Homo sapiens: one gene and its partner. The protein of the gene in region 1 purifies or fractionates together with the protein of each later gene. This does not show direct contact. Each region holds a gene or a part of one and is shown on either strand. Other genes may lie near its edges.

Evidence for each region.
Region 2: the proteins of KCNJ3 (region 1) and GABBR1 purify together in Homo sapiens (affinity purification with western blotting; one study listed by BioGRID). This does not show direct contact.

Annotation. Positions count from the first base shown.
Region 1 is NC_000002.12:154,847,877-154,853,237, forward strand, and holds part of KCNJ3 (G protein-activated inward rectifier potassium channel 1), read left to right. Parts: intron 1-5,361. UniProt on the Homo sapiens protein: Inward rectifier potassium channels are characterized by a greater tendency to allow potassium to flow into the cell rather than out of it.
Region 2 is NC_000006.12:29,618,754-29,623,183, reverse strand, and holds part of GABBR1 (gamma-aminobutyric acid type B receptor subunit 1 isoform a precursor), read left to right. Parts: intron 1-978; coding exon 979-1,080; intron 1,081-1,366; coding exon 1,367-1,432; intron 1,433-1,891; coding exon 1,892-2,083; intron 2,084-4,430.

The sequences.
Region 1 (5,361 bases):
ACCGATGCTTTACCCTCTCTGCAACTGGCCTCTAGGGCTGATATGACTTACTTACTGTGGACACCAGAATATCAGCTAGCATTGTCCTATAGAATCTCTTCACTTCAGATCCTTATAGTGATACCAAAAGGCTTTGTTATTCAGGAAAGTAGTTAGAAATCTGGATGCCACACTAGAAATGAACAGTGTACAATTTACTTAATAACAACTCAAATATATATACACATATACATATACCACCTATATATATTTGTACAAATAATATTAATTTTTAATTCTATGTTTTGGTGTAATATGCTTCACTAAGGAAGTCATTAGATAGTAAAGTTATTTGTTAAGAGCTTAGGTTTGGGAATCAGTATGAGTTCTGGACTTAGCTTTGCTGTTTATTCTCTGTTACTTGAAGTTTCAAGCTCTATCATTCTCCTGGAAGTATGAAAATAATAAAATCTTATTTACAGTTTTGCTGTGATGAGATAATGAGATAAAATATATAAAACCTATATAGCACACTATTTGGCACATTATTACTCAATATGTAATTAATATCACCACTATTATTTTTATGTTTATAATTAGCAATTTTAACCAACAGTCACATTAGCAAATATTTCTTTTTCCCGTCCAGTAGGAAGATGATTCATTCATTATTTTAATTCTTAAAAGTTCACTCATCAATTGGTTTCCCATACTTTTTCCACATGTAATAGCAGCTACAATAAATATCACTAATATTTATTAAGACATTGCTAAACACATTGCATACAATATCTCATAAAATTATTCCAATTATCCTAGAATATAAGTACTATTCTTAATATAATTTTCAAGATTAGAAAAACGGAGGTTCAGAGAGGCAAAGCACCATTCCAAAGGTAAACAGCATAGGTGGTAGAGCTGGGATGCGGCCCCAGGGTCGTCTGACACCACAGTACTTACTGCAGGGAGTTGTGCAGAGTGCCTCTGGTGTTCATCCCTGAAGAAAGGTTCATTTCTTTCATCACTTGCTTTGATTTTTATTGTGGCAAATCTGGTCCCCTTGACCACAGAATCACAGACTTGATGCTTTTGTAACCAAAAGTTGACACTTTAATTTGAATATTCACTAATTATACTACTAGTGATAAACTCTCTTTTGTTTCTTCTTTTGCCTACACAGTACTACTTGATAGAGAGATGAGATTAACAGCATGAATCCTCAAGCCTGATTTCTTATGTTCAATTTCCAGCTGCATCACCTCTATGTGATGCTACTATCTTGTATCCCTCTGTGACTCAGTTTCCACCTCTAGAAAATAGGAAGGGGGATAACAGTCTCTTCCTCGAAGAGTTGTGAGGATTAAAGACAACTTGTAAATAGTGCTTAGAGAGATACTTGACATATAATCCTATAGAGATATTATTACTACATGACTTAACTGAAAGGGATTTGCTCTTCTGTTTTTTGTTTTGTTTTGTTTTGTTTTGTGTTTTTGCTTTTGTTTGATGTACGTGTGATAAAACACAGCCACAGCTACCATTACAGGAGAACGCTCTTTTGCTCTCTCTCCTGTCTCTTTTTTCTCTGTCTGGGTCTGATTCTCTCTATCCCTCTATCTTTCCTCCTTCCCTTTCTTCTCTCCCCCAATCTCCCGCAAACACATCTATATTGGGTAAGGTTTAGATAAAGCGTCCATGTTCAGAAGTTATTGATTGTGTGATATTTTCTGTGTCACAGCATTCAGACATTTCCCTTGGCCTGTGGTTATATTGTTTTTAACCATATTGTGCCCCCTTTGTGTGAGTGACACATCCACCATCCCCGGCTAGCAGAAACAATGGAAAATAACTGAGTTAGAGATATCCTGAAAGTTTAATTAAGGACTTGTCAAATAACAACTCACTTTGTCATTTTCACTTTAAAACCTTCCACAGATCTGTTCTTTGAATGAATGTTTAATTCAGTTAAAAGGATGGACTTAGTTCAGTTTAGAGGCAGAATCAGGAAAGGAAAATGTCAAAAATAAAAAGGTTAGACTATGTTGCTTCTACCATTTTAAATGGACATACTGATACTGGAATAAATTACACTAAACAATAATATATACCCTTTTAAATCTGTGAATATTGCAATGCAATGTACAGAATAAATCTTTTTTTTTTTTTTTTTTTTTTTTTTTTTTTTTTTTACAAAATGTTTTTTATCTAAGGATTCAAAAGTCCCAGCTATTTCCAGTAGCAGCATCTGTTGCTTTGCCAGTTTCCACAGAGATGAGCTCGTGTTGATTTTCACCACATTTGTTCAAGTCTGGAATCTGGTTAAAACATGCAAACAGTTGTGTTGCTGGCTAAGAGGTGCAATCTCATAGTACCCTTTGAATAATAGTAGTCACTTGCATTTATTTTAATTCAAATGGCATTTGCAATTATGAATCTAAGCATGGATTATTTTAAAATAACTAATTAGAATAAGAAATATAAAGCATTCTAATTCTAGAAGGAAGAATGATATGGTACATGCATGTTCTTAGAAACCATAATGATATCTACTTTAAATCTTCTCAGTTGAAATTTGCATTTTATTTTTTCATCACCATTTTGGGATAACTTTTGCAAAAAGAAGTACTCTCTCAATTATATCTTATCTTAGTTCATTGTCTAAGATGCAGATTGGCAAACATAGACATTTTTCTGTTATCCAATTTATAAATCTTCCATATCTTTATCCATATATTGATTGCAAATTCATAATATCCTGAGATGAAACCAGATTTTAAAACTATGATTGTGAATTGGAAATGTCTGCTATTTGGGTACCTACATCTAATGAAAGTAGGACAGGAACAGTAGAAAAACAAACAAAGGTTAAGGTGCTGGCAAATGTTCTTGGCATGATTAACATAGTGTTAACATTGATTTTAGCCATTCTGCTTGCTGCAAGCCTTTTAATACACCCCATATATCCATACTTAGTCTCTTCTGCTATTAGGGGTAGTTAAGTGGAAAATGTTGAGAAACCCTAAAAGTTGGAAATATCAGTAATGTAACTTTTTTCTATACTTTTAAATATTTTGAATGTTTAATTGTCTGACAATTTTAAAAACAAATTACTGGCTGGGCATAATGACTTATACTTGTAATTCCAGCACTTTGGGAGGCTGAGGTGGGAGGATTACTTGAGGCTAGGAATTTGAGAGCAGCCTTTTGTGAGACCCCATCTCTACAAAAAATTGAAAATTAGCCAGACTTGGTGGCTCGTACCTGTCATACCAGCTACTTGGGAGTAACAGGCAAGAAGATTGCTTGAGCCCAGGGGTTTGAGGCTGCAGTGAGCTATGATCCCACCACTGCACTCCAGCCTGAGTGGCAGAACAAGAGCCCATCTGAAAAAAAAAAAATTGTTATCTCATAGCCAGTGACTTTTAAACTTAATTCTTAATATTCTATATTACTAATATGGGATAAATTACAAAGATGTAAAAATTCATCACACATATTAAGGCACCTTACTAATTTTCAGGAAGAACAGGAAATGTAAGTGACTATTATAGAACAATAAATCACTAGTCATTAACAGGCATTACCTAAACACCAAGCAAGGTTCTATGTCTTTTACTTTCAAACTTTCAGTAGGTTTCTAAGAGAAGATATGTTGTTATCTCTAGTTGATAAAGGAGAAAACAGGGTGAGAGAGCTTTAGGTAATTTTCACAAGCTATTTAATAGTGGCATTGACAGCCAGATTCATAAACTTTTAAATTATATTTCAGATGTTGCCTCACTTATGTGAATTTGCTGTGAAAATAAGTAAAGTTAATTTTATCTAGTAAAATAGATTCTCCACCTTCCTTTTCAGTTGAAATCATGCATTGGCATTTCAGTAACAATGATTACAAGTATTTTAATGCCAACAAACATTTGAATACACGTTTCCACTGTAGATGTCATAGCACTTTAAGTACCTTAATAATTGATGGCCAGTTTTCCCAATATTAAAATTTTATAAGATTTTATTTTCCCAATTGTAATGGTAAAAGCAGGGGCAAAATTTTGATTTTTTATGTAATGTTATTTTCGCAATGTGAAAATAAAAAAAAGCCACCAAAATGAAATGGGCTAAGATGGTGATATCATCAAATTTTACTTCAAAATTTACTTTGTGATTGTTAGAAATAATTGAACAGACTTCATAACCTGAATTTACTTTAACTCATTGTAAATATTTATTTATATTAATCAAAGGACAAACTTACAAACTTTCCTTACTTTTTAAGACACTGAATTATATTGAGTACGTAACATTACTTAGGATAATTCTGCCTGACATCAATTTTCAATGATTGAAGTTTTTAAAATTAAAAAAGTGGCTGGGTTCAAGATGAGTCTGAGTAACATGACAAAACCCTGTCTCTACAAAGAAATACAGCTCACTTGGGAGGCTGAGGTGGGAGGATCACCTGATCCCAGGGAGGCTGAGGCTGCAATGAACTGAGATGGTGCCACTGCACCGCAGCCTGGGCGACAGAGTGAGATCTCATCTCGAAAAACATAAAAATAAAAAAGATAGATTGTAAGGCAGTATTATCACTTAGTAAAAATATATTTATAGTATTTTTTCTTAAATTTAAATTAATGTCTTGGATGGGAAAGACACTTAGAATGACAGTGGCTGCTTTTAGGGAGAAAATATAAGGCACTTCCACATTATTTGTTTTACTATTTCTTATCTTAACAATGACATCAGATATTTATTCTTTATTCTAGATACTTTTCTTTATCTTTAAATTTCTCAAAATAAAACCAAGTAAATATATCAGGAAATACATTTTTTATTTTTCCTGATTAAGTGATAATCTATGATTTTTCTTATGAAATACTTAGAGGCTAGAAAGTTATTAGAAAATACAGAATGCTGCTATGTGTGTGTTTACACTTAATGTTTTAAAACTAATTTATTATCTTATATATAAATGTTTCTGGGGCTATTCCTCACGTAAAATTGATTATAAACACGGATATCTGATCATAGTCAGATTTGCACCATTACAGAGTTTAAGTGATAACTGAGTTCATAACTAAAATATTAGAGACATTACGGCAAAGTAAAATAACAACAATTTAAAAAAAAACCCACGCATAGAAATAGGATGATACTTTTTTTCTCTACAGCTTATTAGATCTGTGCTCAAGAAAGGTCAAGAGACTTAACCTCTCTGAGCACTAAATTCCTTATCTTTAAAATAGATGCAAGAATATCTTCTCAACAGGACCATATTGAGGATTAGAATGGAAAAAAAAAAAAAGAGGGAAGAAGAGAGAGAGCACCTAACACAGTGCTAGCCACATGATAGATACTAATTTTCTACATGAGTTTATTTTAAAA
Region 2 (4,430 bases), on another chromosome or scaffold:
CATGTGGATTAAGTGCAGTTCTTTCTGTAGCCAGGGGAAAGAATGAGTTGAGTTTTTGGGATCCTCTCTGTCTTTATGATTTTATGATTTTTTTCCCCTGTTTGATGCCCTGTTCCCCAGACATATAGACCCAGAATGACTCAGTTCTGTTAAAGTAGGTTCAATCCAAAGTGGGGGCAAGAGATGGGAGCGAAGATGAGATAGGAATCCAGGAAGGCAGCAGATTCCAGAGGCTTTCAAGGGGGGTGGTGGGTGGGTGTGAATGGGAACAGAGGGGATGGAGCCAGTGGATTACAGAGGAGAGAGGGAGAGGAAAGAGAGAGAGAGAGAGGAATGAGGGAGAGGAGAGAGAGGGGCAGAAAGGCAGCTGCATGGATCTGGTAGTTGGTACTAAGAGAGAGAAGCCGACAGACAAGGAGAGGTTGAGGGGGAAGAGGGAGATTTGGGGAGGTAGAGAGGAAATACAGGCTCTACATCTGAAGAAGGCAGTCTGCTCCCTCCCTTTTATTCTATTCTTTGGGTCTTCTATCCACTGTGTTCAGTGGCCCTTTAATCCTCCCCCACTTTCACTCTGATTCAGACCATTCTTCTCTGATCCTTTGTCTGTCTGCCCATTTGCCTCTTGAGGTTGACATCATGCTGTCTGTCCCAGTCCTTGCCTTGTCTTTTCCTGGTTCCTTTATGTTTCTTTACCCCATCTTTGCCTTCAGTGGTAGGAGTGGGTGAATGGAGTGGCTTCCCCCACACAGAGCCTCAGCAGGGGCTCACCATTCACCTTCCCACTTGGAATCCACATCCTAAGACCAGATGCCTTCCCGAACTCCTCACTTCAGGGACAGAAGCTGTTGAAGGAAGGTTCAGAATGGCTGCTTCTTTGCTCTATCTGAGTATTGCTCTGAAATCCCCAGTTAACCTCTCTGGTCTTTATTCCCTCATGCACCCCGTGTTTTTCCAACTTGTTTTTTATTCCCACCCAAGACTCTGGACGACCTGGAGGAACGAGTGAAGGAGGCTGGAATTGAGATTACTTTCCGCCAGAGTTTCTTCTCAGATCCAGCTGTGCCCGTCAAAAACCTGAAGGTCAGATGGCTGGGAGTGGTGGGCTCTGTTTACGGAGGGACCAAGCTGGGGGACAGTGACTGGTTGGAGAGGAAAGCCAGGCGGGGGCAGGTTTTGATTCTCTGAGGCAATAGCATCTCCTGGGGAAGTTTAGCTCCATCTTCCAGTTGACGTTTATTCACTATACGTTGAGCGTTACCCTGCACTAAGCACTTTGGGATGGGAAATCAAAGCTGTGAAGACATCTGGCTTAGCCCCTCAGGCATTCCCGGGCATCCCTCAGGAGCTGTTTCTTTCTCTGTTGTAGCGCCAGGATGCCCGAATCATCGTGGGACTTTTCTATGAGACTGAAGCCCGGAAAGTTTTTTGTGAGGTGGAGTTGGATCTGAAGAGGGAGGGGCACTGGGTGGGAGTTTCCCTTGGTTTTCTTGTGGGGCCTCCTCTTGGCATCTGTGCCTGAGTTGATAGCATATGATCTGAGGTGACGATTCATAGGATGTCTCTGTCTGTTGGCTCTGACTGCATCCCTTGTCTGCACACACATGATACTTTCTTCAGATCTCATTTTTCTACTGCTTTGTGTTTCCTGAGAAGCCCATGAATTCCATCTGTCCTGACTGGCTGGAAAAGGCCACTCAGAAATACAGGGGCTGGGGAGAAACTTAGAAGGAAGAATTGTCAGCCTTTCCTACTATCCCCAAGACTTGTAGATTTCTCTTTTTAGTTCTACTGCTCTTCCCTGATTCCCAAGAGGCTAAATAGTATCAAGTGAGATAAGACAAAAACAAACAAATGAGCAAACAAAAACTCAGCCATTCTCCTCTGTATTCAGGTGTACAAGGAGCGTCTCTTTGGGAAGAAGTACGTCTGGTTCCTCATTGGGTGGTATGCTGACAATTGGTTCAAGATCTACGACCCTTCTATCAACTGCACAGTGGATGAGATGACTGAGGCGGTGGAGGGCCACATCACAACTGAGATTGTCATGCTGAATCCTGCCAATACCCGCAGCATTTCCAACATGGTGAGAGTGTGGGGACTTGCAGTCTGGCACCTGGGAGGGTGGAGAGGACTGAGGGGGCCTTGCAGGGGAAAGGGTGGCAGGGAGAGGGTGCGGAATTTGGATATAAAGGAGAAGAGGGGGCTGTGCCCACCCTGAACTTGTCTGCATTATGTTTCCTGTGGATCCTACCTTTGCTCTGACTTCCTTGGGTAGAGAGAGAAAAAAAAAAAAACGATGGAGTTGTATGTTCAGTAGGTTCCTGATGAGTGGAAGGGCTGTTACCATGGAGACGAGGAGCAGTTGGTGAGAAGTCAGGAGGAACCGGCATTAATGATAATATGGATGCTTGTATACTCAAGCACACCTTTACAGGAGCACTGTGTCTGGGCAGAATTGCATTTCATTTTCTTGGTGATTTATGTTAGTGTTTTAGAGTTGCTTAATATTCACTCATGATTGATATGCAATTAGCTTGGATCCTGTTGCTTTTTTTAATGATTCTTTTTTTAGAATTTTATGTGGAGAAGGGGCTTTTGAAATCATTTAGCCCCAGACAGCTGGTTAATGACAGACTTGGAGCGAGGAGGCGCATTCTCTGATTTGAGAGGGCTGGGGCAGCCCTGCAGCTGAGGGGCAGAAGTGAGTGTGGGTGTGGGCACAGGGGAAGAGGCTTCTTTGTTGCTCAGCACTACATTGTAAAGAGTACAGGAATTTTGGGTAAGCTCGATACGGCCACCTATGTGTCTGCTTATTACACCAAGTGTGTACCTGCTTTGGAGAGCATGTTAGGGGTGAGTTAATGGTTGTAAAGCCCCAAAATAGCTTGATTTAAAAAGTTTTACTAACAGTGGCATTTGTGTGGTACTTAGATTCATGATTTCAGGGATTCTAACAGCAAAACTCTGATGTGGACTTATCTACATTTTGTAGACCAGGAAAATGAGACTCAGAGTGGTTTAATGACTTGTCTCAGGTCATGCAGCTACTCAGCAGTCCAGCTGGAATTGAATCCTAGTTAAATCTGGCTCCAAACTGCTCTGCTCATCACTTCCCATGGAAAACCATGAAGCCTGACTAAAAAGTTTGTACTTTTATCTGCTAACACTGTTTAGCTACTGGCAATTGCTGAGCAAAGGAGAAATAAGATTTAGGAAGTTGACTCTGGTGGTGTGTTGTGATGAAAGATCTGCTGCCACATGGACTCTGATGATACACACTGTTTTGGGACATTCTAAATGGACTCTATGTTTTAAGGTATGTTAGTTGAAAAATACAATGAAAAAATTTTGGAAGATCACTTTCCTGTAGAGTACCCAAGAGGTGAGTCATCCATAAAACCTGGGAAAGTATTGGAACTGGCTACCAAAGCCAGAAAGACTTGTTGGTGCCCTGAGCCCAGGACTTGCCAATCGTTGCTTCTGTCTTATAGCAGGGAGCTAGAGGAGGCTGACAGAAAACAGGGATTTGGCTGGATCTAGTGGCTCACACCTGTAGTCCCCAGCACCTTGGGAGGCCAAGGCAGAGGATCACTGGAGCCCAGGAGTTCAAGACCAGCCTGGGCAATATAGTGAGACCCCCAGCTCTAAACAAAAAGAGAGAGAGAGAGAACAGAGAGATGGTTAGGGACATAGAGGGACACCTGAGCATTGGGGTGGGAAGACTTGGAAGGTCCCTTTCTGACTTTGTGTCTAGAGAAAGATGGTTCCTGCTTTTGAGGCCATAGGGCTTCCAGTGGGACCAGCCTAAAATGCCAGTGGGGAAGCCAATGTTTTCTGAAGAGGATAGAGCAGTCTTAACAATAGGTTAGGGGCAAAAGAGATTATAGATTAATCAAACAGCACAAATAGAAGTGGATCAAAGCAAGGGTTGGACCTAGGGGGCCGGAGCCATGGAGACTTAGAAAAGAAGCAGAGTTGCTTTTATTCCCTAAGGATGGCCTTATGTTTAGATCAATAGTTCTCAAACTTTAACATCCGTCAGAACCACCTGGAAAGGTAGTTAGTTCACAGGTTATCAGGCCCTTCCCCTGGAAATTCTGATTCAGTAGATCTGGGCTAGGGCCTGAGAACTGACATTTCTAGCAAGTCCCTGGGGATGCAGATGTACTGGTCTGGGGATCACACCTCGAGAACTATTAGTTAGGGTAGTGGTTTTCAACTACTACCCTAGACTCAGACGCTATACTATCTGGAGGCATTTTTGGTTGTTACAGTTGGGGGTAGGGGATGGGGAGGGATACATGCTCCTGATATCTAATGTGTAGAAGCCAAAGATGATTCTAAATATCCTACAAAGCACAGCCCCTGGCAACAAAGAATTATCTTGCTCAAAATGTTAATAGTGCAGAGAATGAGAAACCCTAGTTTAG